Linked DNA regions of Homo sapiens: all the other regions are reported to be linked to region 1. Evidence: microRNA targets listed by miRTarBase, many of them from high-throughput screens and not tested one by one. Region 1 holds a microRNA gene; each other region holds the end of a gene's coding sequence.

Region 1 (3,256 bases):
TGATATAGCTAACATAGAATAGAACTCACTTTAAGTGTACAGCTTGATGAGTTTTAACATATATATACACACACTGTAGTCATGTAACCACTGCCCCATCAAGATACAGAACATTTCATCACCCCTAGAACTTCCCTTGTGACTTTTAGCTGTCAATTACTTCTCTCTACCCCCCACATTCCCCACTCCTGTTCCTAACAAGCACTGATCTGCTTTTGCACTAAAGTCTTGCCTTTCTTAAAGTTTCCTATAGATGCAGTCATACAGATGTAGTCTCTTGTGTCTCACTTCTTTTGCTCAACACAATGTTTTTGAAATTCATCCATATTCCCCGTCCGGGAGGGAGGTGGGGGGGGTCAGCCCCCCTGCCCGGCCAGCCGCCCCGTCCGGGAGGTGAGGGGCACCTCTGCCCGGCCGCCCCTACTGGGAAGTGAGGAGCCCCTCTGCCCGGCCACCACCCCGTCTGGGAGGTGTACCCAACAGCTCATTGAGAACAGGCCAGGATGACAATGGCGGCTTTGTGGAATAGAAAGGCGGGAAAGGTGGGGAAAAGATTGAGAAATCGGATGGTTGCCGTGTCTGTGTAGAAAGAAGTAGACATGGGAGACTTTTCATTTTGTTCTGCACTAAGAAAAATTCCTCTGCCTTGGGATCCTGTTGATCTGTGACCTTACCCCCAACCCTGTGCTCTCTGAAACATGTGCTGTGTCCACTCAGGGTTAAATGGATTAAGGGCGGTGCAAGATGTGCTTTGTTAAACAGATGCTTGAAGGCAGCATGCTCGTTAAGAGTCATCACCAATCCCTAATCTCAAGTAATCAGGGACACAAACACTGCGGAAGGCCGCAGGGTCCTCTGCCTAGGAAAACCAGAGACCTTTGTTCACTTGTTTATCTGCTGACCTTCCCTCCACTATTGTCCCATGACCCTGCCAAATCCCCCTCTGTGAGAAACACCCAAGAATTATCAATAAAAAAATAAATTAAAAAAAAAATGTAAAAAAAAAAAATGTAAAAAAAAAAAAAAAAGAAATTCATCCATATTATTGGATGTATCAATAGTTTGTTCCTTTTTATTGCATAGTAGCATTCCCCTGAATGGATATACCACAGTCTGTTTATTCATTTACCAGTTGATGGACATTTGGGTTACTTCCAGTTTTGGATGATTTTGAGTAAAGTTGCAATGAACATTCACATACAAGTCCTTGTGTGGACCTACGTCTTCATTTGAGAGATTTTTTTCCTTTTAAACTTTTTATTTTATTAGGTTGGTGCAAAAGAAACTGTGGTTTTTGCCATTACTTTCAATGGCAAAAACCACAATTACTTTTGCACCAACCTAAATCTTCCCTCTCTCTGGATTTGCAATTATTCTGTAAATCTAAAGTTAACTTTAGCTAAATCAGGTTGACATCATATACCCCCTAAAGTTAACTTTAGATTTACAGAAGAGTTGCAAATCCAGAGAACCCCCCGTAGTCTTCATCCACCTTCCCCCAATGTTAATATCGTACTAATTATGATACATTTATCAAAACTCAAAAATTAACATGGGCACAGTTGTATTAACTAAACTCCCGACTTTCTTCAGATTTCACCAGTTTTTTCCACTAATGTCCTTTTTCTGTTCCAGGATTTAATCAGGATATAATGTTGCACTTAATTATTATATCATAATAGTCACTTTCAATCTATGTCAATTTCTCTGTCTCTCCTTGTTTTTTTATGACTTTGACATTTATGAAGTGGGCTGGTCAAGTATTTTGTAGGATGTCCCTCAATCTGGATTTGTCTGATGTTTTCTGATCATTAGACTGCAGTTGGGGTTTGGGGAAAGAATACCCCAGAGGTGAAATGGCCTTCTCATCACATAATATTAGGGGGCACATGATATCTACCTGATTGCTCACTGGTGAAGTTAACCTTGATCACTTGGTTAAGGCGTTGTCTACCAGAGTTACCCACCGTAAGCTGCTAATTTCCCTTTCCATACTCTGTTCCAGGGGTGTCCAATCTTTTGGCTGCCCTGGGACACATTGGAAGAAGAATTGTCTTGGGCAACACATAAAATACATCATTAACACTATGACAGCTGTTGAGCTAAAAAAAAAAAAAAAAAAAAAAAAAAAAAAAAGGACCGGGTGCGGTGGCTCACACCTGTAATCCCAACACTTTGGGAGGCCGAGGCGGGTGGGTCACGAGGTCAGGAGATCGAGACCATCCTGGCTAACACAGTGAAACCCCATCTCTACTAAAAATAGAAAAAATTAGCCGGGCGTGGTGGTGGGCGCCTGTAGTCCCAGCTACTCAGGAGGCTGAGGCAGGAGAATGGTGTGAATCCAGGAGGAGGAGTTTGCAGTAAGCCGAGATTGCACCACTGCACTCCAGCCTGGGTGACAGAGGGAAACTCTGTCTCAAAAGAAAAAAAAAAAAAAAGGTCTGTGCATAAATATCATAATGTTTTAAGAAAGTTTATGAATTTGTGTTGGGCCACATTCAAAGCTGTCCTGGGCCACGGGTTGGACAAGCTTACCGTCTATTCATTAGAAGTGAGTCACTCAGGGGAGGGAGATTAGGCCCTGCCTCCTACAGGGAGGGGTTTCAAAGAATTTGTGGACATATGCTAAAACCAGCACCATAATTAATGTGGTATTTTTTTTTTTTTGACGGAGTCTTGCTCTGTAGCCCAGGCTGGAGTGCAGTGGCCTGATCTCGGCTCACTGCAAGCTCTGCCTCTCAGGTTCATGCCATTCTCCTGCCTCAGCCTCCTGAGTAGCTGGGACTACAGGTGCGCACCACCATGCCCAACTAATTTTTTTGTATTTTTAGTAGAGAAGGGGTTTCACCATGTTAGCCAGGATGGTCGCGATCTCCTGACCTCGTGATCCACCCGCCTTGGCCTCCCAAAATGCTGGGAATACAGGTGTGAGCCACCGTGCCCGGCCAATTAATGTATTTTTATTATTTTAAAAGTTATTCTTATTTTTAGAGATAGAGTCTCACTATGTTGCCCATGCTGGTCTTGAACTCCTGGGCTCAAGCTGTCTACCCACCTCGGCCTCCTAAGTGCTGGGATTATAGGCGTGAGCCACTTTACCTGGCCTGCTTGTTTTTTTGAGACAGAGTCTCGCTCTGTCGCCCAGGCTGGAGTTCAGTGGCACAATCTCGGCTCACTGCAAGCTCCACCTCCTGGGTTCACGCCATTCTCCTGCCTCAGCCTCCCGAGTAGCTGGGACTACAGGCGCCCGCCACTA
Region 2 (3,242 bases), not on the chromosome of region 1:
CCACCAGTCAGATGAACAGAAACTTGAAAAACCGAATGAATGCAAATTTTCTGAGTGGCTTAATATAGAAAATTCTGAGAGAACAGGTTTGCCTTTTCACGTTGATAACTCTGCTTCTGGGAAGAGAGTGAACAGTAATGAACCATCTTCATTATGGTCTTCACACCTAAGAACTGTTGGGTTAAAGCCAGAAACTGCTCCTCTCATCCAGCAACAAAATATCATGGATCAATGTTACTTTGAGAACTCTCTATCCACAGAATGTATAATTCGGTCAGCCAGCAGATCTGATGGGTGTCAGATGCCAAAACTTTTTTGCCAGAATCTACCACCCCCTTTGCCACCAAAGAAATATGCTATAACCAGTGTGCCACAGTCAGAGAAAAGCGAATCTACACCTGATGTCAAACTTACAGAGGTGTTTAAAGCTACCTCTCATCTTCCGAAGCACAGTTTAAGTACAGCTTCAGAACCAAGTTTAGAAGTGAGTACACATATGAATGATGAAAGACATAAAGAAACATTTCAAGTGAGAGAATGTTTTGGCAACACACCAAACTGTCCATCCAGCTCCTCAACTAACGATTTTCAGGCAAACTCAGGTGCCATTGATGCATTTTGCCAACCAGAACTAGACTCTATTTCTACCTGTCCAAATGAGACAGTTTCATTAACTACCTATTTTTCAGTTGATAGCTGCATGACGGATACATATAGATTGAAATACCATCAGAGGCCCAAGCTCTCTTTTCCAGAGAGCAGTGGCTTTTGTAATAATTCACTATCTTAGAGTGAAAAAGGACTAGACCTGTGTTACATAATAATCTTGGTTCAAGCTGCCCTTCTGAACAAAGATATAAACCTAGCATACATTGTAATAGATAACTGGTAAAACTGACCAACTTTTACTTCTCAGAGGCCATTTAAATATAATAGGAACCTACTGACCAAACCTAGTGATACATAAAATTAAAGCCTGTGGCATTTTTAAAGTTGTTAATCACTATACATATGTATGTGTATATGTGTATACACATATATAATTTTATGATCAATATCTTAGATATTTTAGAAATTCCCTTTGAATAGTCTTGGCGTGCCGTGAAAAATAGAAAATCAGGGAGATATAATAATTCATTTGTCATATGCTACAGTTGAATAAAAATTAAATTTGTCCCCCTATTTTGTGGCCAGTAGACTGGGAAGTATTAAACTAACCAGTACTCATGTATGGAGATTATAAACTATGCTAATTGAAAAGTACCAGGTGATACATAGCCTGGTACTTTTTTGTCAAAGAATTGCTTTATGAAGAAGCACTTTCTAATGGGTAACCAGAAAAGGGCTTCACCCATTTGTTTTTGACTTCTATGATAGTCACTGCATATGATCCCTTTAAGTGTCTTTAAAAAAAATGACTTATGAATTTGATAGCATTTGGGGAAAAAAAGCCTTATATGATTAACAATTTGTAAGTTTTCAAGATCGGATGGAATTTAATTTTGCTCCTAGAATTTTTGTCTTCAGAATATCTAGTTAAGATAAATTAGGCCTTTGACTATTATAGGTATTCATAAATGCTACTTTAGCCATGTAAGTTAAAAAGTTAAAATACTTAAACTTTAGTGTATTTATTTATCTCGTTACTTTTTTTCTAATTTTATATGAAATGTGAAAGGTCTTTATTTTGGTTTGGTTTACTTTGGGCTGCTAACCACCAGTGTTAGGAATTAATGTAGGGCACCCTCTTATTGGGAATGTCACTGTAATTGCCTACATTTTCTTTGCTGTAATATTACCTGCTTATAGGTTGTCAACCCATTTTATCTGAATTTGAAAATCTATCTAGGTTTCCAGATTAAATTTCTACCTTTCATATAGAGAGTTTAATTTTAATAAAATGTTTAATTAGAGCATCCTTCCCTTTTATTCTACTTTGAACAAATAGTAATTTTACCCCAACTACTTTTCATGAAGAGTGCTTTGAAAATTAAAGGAATTTTTATTATTATGGTAACCTTATGAGTAAAAATAAGTTACTTTAATTGCTTTATTTCGTTAGTTGTCATTTTATTTTGTACTATGCTGGTAAACTAATTGTGGTTTAGAATAGTTTTATGTTCACTCCTGATAACTGAGAAACAGAACTAAAGTTTTCCTTACATTGCTAAATGGATAAACCTCATATTCAATAAACTAGTAAATGTAGCCACTTGACTGATTGCGTAAATCGTGTTAAAACATTCTAAAATGTTGTAACTAATTTAATGTGAATACTGTTAAACAGAAAATAATTGCTTATAAAAGTCTAACTTCACCCAGTTACCAAGTCTTGGCCAAATTTTATCTTCTGCCTATAGTTTTTACTAGCCTTTTTAAACTATAATAGTGAGTGATCATTACTTTATATTCTCGTAAGTTAGAAATACTTGAATGCCAAATTAATTTTGTTTTAAGAAAGCTTATTTTTAACATAATTTTTTAGTGTGGAGGGTTTGTAAATAATGTAAAGTTTGTAAACCTGTATTTAAAATACCAAAGTTTTTCTTCTTTTATAACATTGTAAGATACTAGAAAAATGGGCTTCAAGTTTTTTAATAGCTTTCACAGTTTGTGTAGTTTTTTTTTTCTATTTGGTTAAGATGTGAGTTGGAAATGTATTATTTGAAACATTTAAACTAATTTTTGTATTTAACAGCAGTCTCAGACATTTGTCTTTTCAACTCAGTTGAGTTGTAGATATCAAATAGAAATGTCCAGTTTTGCCTCTTTTAAGTACTGTCCAGTTGAAACCTCCTGACTCATGTACTACTACACAAACTAGAAAATGCCCATTTATTTTTGTTGATTCAACACTCCAGATACAGATTGATACATATATACTAATCATTTTATTTCATGTAAAAGTTTTACATCTAGGGTGCCTATTTATTTTTATAGATGCTTTCATCCAGTTATAAGCTTATTATAACTTTGTAAATATTTCAGCCAACAGTTGTAATGTTTAAAATACTTACCTTCAGAATGTTATATTTTCATGTGAAATCAATTTCTTCTAATTCAAAAAAATTTTAAGATAAACTGATTTTTAAGTTTATATGATTGGACTTCTCTTTGCATTCATGAACTGTGTGTCACCCTCCCACCAACGTGGATTATTTTGGGACATGTTAAGTCGCGGGTACTTGGAATTTCACTGATCATAAACGGTTATCACAGGAGATCCTAGGAGTTAAACTCCA
Region 3 (3,231 bases), not on the chromosome of region 1:
CAAGATCATGCCATTGTACTCCAGCCTGGGCAACAGAGCGAGACTCCGTCTCAAAAAAGAAAAAAGAAAAAGCCCAAGTCAAAGGGGGAGAAATGGGGTCAGAGACAGCCAAGGATTGGGAGACGTGGGGCAGAGAGGGAGAGGCTGGGCCGGAGATAGACAGGAGTGGAGGTGAGGGAGCAAGGACTCACAGCAGGTGGCAGGTGGCAGGCTTGTGTTCACGCATCTGGCACCAGTGAGTGCCTGTTACATGCCAGGAGTTATTCCAGGAAGAAGGAAACTGATAAAGTGCCCTTGAGAATTTCTCAAACGGGAACTCCTGCAGTGGCAGCTGAGGGGCTCCAGCGCCTTCTCGGGTCCTTCCACCCCATCTGGCTGGGTTTCCCCATAGCCCTGGGCATGGCAGCCTCCACCCCTATGCCCGAGGGCAGATGAATGCCAGAGGGAGTGACCTGGGGCAGGTCACACGGGCAGGAAGAGGCTGCAGGCCACCTGCCCTCCTGTTAAAACAGCACCTGGCACTGGGCACAGCATGAAATGGCACTTACTTGGTAGATATTTGTGAAGAGAATGAACACACAGAATGGGGGTGAAGATGGGCTTTGGAAGCAGCAGAAGCCCATGAAACGGTACTTGGAACTGGGTTTGTCTGGCCGTGTGGGAGACAAAGGTCATCAGGCACAACCTTGCATCTCAGAAGGGGTCAAGAACCCATTGTTTTGGGTTTTTAAAAGCCTCCAATGAGACTCCACAGCAGACATGGTTTCTCAGCTTTAGAAATCGCCTCTGAGGTAGACTGTAAGGAAACTGACTCCATATGGGATTGACTATATTTTTTGCTGCACAGAAATATCCTCCAGTGCCCACTGGCAAGGAGAAAGCCCCACAGGATTTAAGGAGTAACAGTACCCACACATCGAGTCACGTGTCAGACGCTGTCCTGAGCGTTCTGTCTTCACACACCCTATGGGGTCGGGGCTGTCTTAGTCCGTTTGATGGATGAGGAAACAGGCCCAGAGGATTGAAGGGATCAGCCTGTACTCACCCTGCCGGGATGGGGCAGAGTTGGGGTGTGACACCCTGTGGCATTCATGTCCTCCCTGAGGAGGTGGGGTGGGGATGCAATGCCAAGGTGGGTTCCCTGTGGGCCACTGGGCTCAGAAGCAGCCTCCCCCTAGGCTTCCACCTGAACAACCAGCTGACCCAGACCCTCACCAGCCGCTACCGGGATAGCCGTCTGCGTGTGGACTTCGAGCGGTTCGTGTCCTGTGTGGCCCACCTCACCTGCATCTTCTGTGAGTACCACCCCGGCATGGTGGGGCATGGGGGGAAGGGGTACGGGGACTGGTGGGCACTCACCCTGCCCCTCTCTGCACAGGCCACTGCAGCCAGCACCTGGATGGGGGTGAGGGGGTCATCTGCCTGACCCACAGACAGGTGAGCCAGGTGGGAGGGACAGGGTGGCTCAGGCTCTGTCCTGCGAGCTCCCTGCCTCAAGCCACTGTCTTCCTTCTCTTCCTTAGTGGATGGAGGTGGCCACCTTCTCCTAGGATCTCCGGATGGGCGCACCTGCTGCTCAGGGCAGGGTTGCTGAGCAAGACCACCTCCCTAGGCCTTGCCTGGCATGGGTGCCACTCTCTCTGGCATCCACCTGTCTGGGGCTAGTCTCTGGCCCTCACTGCTCACGGCCGGGTGACCACTCTGGCCTGCGTACTCCTCACTCAGAAACAAGAACAGCGACAGCCCTTCTCGAGCAGATGACACGAGCTAGTCCACGTTGACAGCTTAAGACAGTGCTAGCTCTGCCCTGGCTCTCCTAGAAGGTGGAGGACAGACACAGGAGAAATAAAAAAAGATGATGCTGCAGGAATCCTTCTTAAAAATATTACATGTTTTATTATCCTGTCCCCAGAGGGTGGTTTATCCAGAAACCAAGAAAAAAAATCAATCAGAATAAACTCAAAAAAAAAAGGTAGGGGGAGCAAAACCATCAACCACCAGGCAGCCAGGCCATCAGCCCACCTCCACCTCTGGAGGGTCCCCAGAGACCCACGCCCGACGCAGACCCGGAGGAGCATCAGCAAGGGGCCCGGGCAGAGAATCGGCTATGTCTTCATTATGAGAGCAGGAGAGACGGCAGAGATATGTTGCTAGGTGAATATATATTTATATAATAAATCCGTAAGTTAATAAAGTAAATAGTAATTCTCTGAAAGTTTTTAATTCTTTCTTTTTTATAGTTTTTTTGTTTTTGTGATTTTTTTTTTTTTTGGTTTTTGTTGTTTTGTGTTTTTTTTCCTTTTTTTTTTTTGGTTCTTAGAAAATCTGAGACACGTGAGGCCAGACAAAGCAAGGCCGGGGCTGGTGGGATGGGGTGCGGTTCAGGGGGGCCCGGTCTGCCAACTCAGCTCCTCTGCTGCAAAAGCGGGGTGCTTGTTGGGGCCATCTCCTGGCAATGGCAAGTGAGTCTGGAGCAGAGAGGGGAGAGGGGCTGGGTGGGTCCCCAGCCGTCAGGTGGTGGTGGCGCCCTCTGCTGGCCCCTCGCATGGCCCAGGCAGTTCCTGGACAAGGCACATGGGGCTTTGGCCTGGATTGGGGAGGCCTTGAAGGGACCTCAGAGCAAAGGAAGAGACCTGGGTGTGGTGAGGCATCCCAGGGCATGGAAGGGACCGGTTGTGCTGTGGGAATCCACTGGCCCCTCCTTGGTTAAAAAAGCACAACACATCATACATATTTACCAGACCAGAAGCGCTGGCCCCAAGTCTCCCCAACCTGGTCGGGGGAACCTCCTGGCCAACCCACAAAGAGAGAGAGGAGAGAGCCTGCCCCAGCCCCTCCCTGCCCACCCACCCACCCCGGAGGACTGCAGAGAGTGCTTTGCATAGATACAGAGTGGAGGAATGGGACTGTGGGGCTGCCCAGGCCCCTCCTGGAGGCCGTCGGGGGTGTTGGGTCAGGTCTCTGGGGCCTCACAGGTCGCTCTCGCCATACAAGGCCGTGGAGAAGGACTTGTAGTCGAGGGCACCGGGCACGGCGTCAGGGCCCTGGTATGGCGCCATGCGGGCGATGCAGTACTCGGCCTGGTCGGGGGGCAGCTCTCTCCGCAGCTCCTCAGCTGTGATGAAGTTCTGGGGCAGGCAGGATGGGACTCTGAGCCATCCCCACCCACACACTGGCCCCCTCAGCCCCTCCCACTGCAGGGACCCCTCTCGCCAGCCCCCATGCACCTCG

Evidence for each region. The annotated mature microRNA hsa-miR-548ad-5p reads AAAAGUAAUUGUGGUUUUUG and lies in region 1 at 1,314-1,333, opposite strand. An mRNA with a match to its seed (bases 2 to 7 or 8) in the 3' UTR can be bound and repressed. Matches are read on the target gene's strand: a 7mer-m8 pairs with bases 2 to 8, a 7mer-A1 pairs with bases 2 to 7 and ends in A, and an 8mer does both.
Region 2: the mRNA of USP53 is a reported target of hsa-miR-548ad-5p. Seed matches in the 3' UTR shown: 7mer-A1 at 1,582-1,588, 7mer-m8 at 1,644-1,650, 7mer-m8 at 1,698-1,704, 8mer at 2,037-2,044 and 8mer at 2,400-2,407.
Region 3: miRTarBase lists ACTN4 as a target of hsa-miR-548ad-5p. Seed matches in the 3' UTR shown: 8mer at 2,191-2,198.

Annotation. Positions count from the first base shown.
Region 1 is chr17:67,470,229-67,473,484 of GRCh38, forward strand. MIR548D2 (microRNA 548d-2) reads right to left here and starts at 1,357; the gene lies at 1,261-1,357. All of the region lies in intron 1 of PITPNC1 (phosphatidylinositol transfer protein cytoplasmic 1), which reads left to right. MIR548AA2 (microRNA 548aa-2) reads left to right here and starts at 1,261; the gene lies at 1,261-1,357.
Region 2 is chr4:119,292,422-119,295,663 of GRCh38, forward strand. It overlaps USP53 (ubiquitin specific peptidase 53), which reads left to right. Exons shown (of 19, transcript NM_001371395.1): 19 at 1-3,097. The coding sequence ends at 790. Among named protein-coding and RNA genes, the nearest start is that of ARLN, 6.6 kb to the right of the region's middle.
Region 3 is chr19:38,729,171-38,732,401 of GRCh38, reverse strand. It overlaps ACTN4 (actinin alpha 4), which reads right to left. Exons shown (of 21, transcript NM_004924.6): 21 at 813-3,128. The coding sequence ends at 2,970. CAPN12 (calpain 12) reads left to right here. Exons shown (of 21, transcript NM_144691.4): 19 at 1,179-1,295; 20 at 1,379-1,437; 21 at 1,524-2,210. The coding sequence ends at 1,550. Among named protein-coding and RNA genes, the nearest start is that of CAPN12, 14 kb to the left of the region's middle.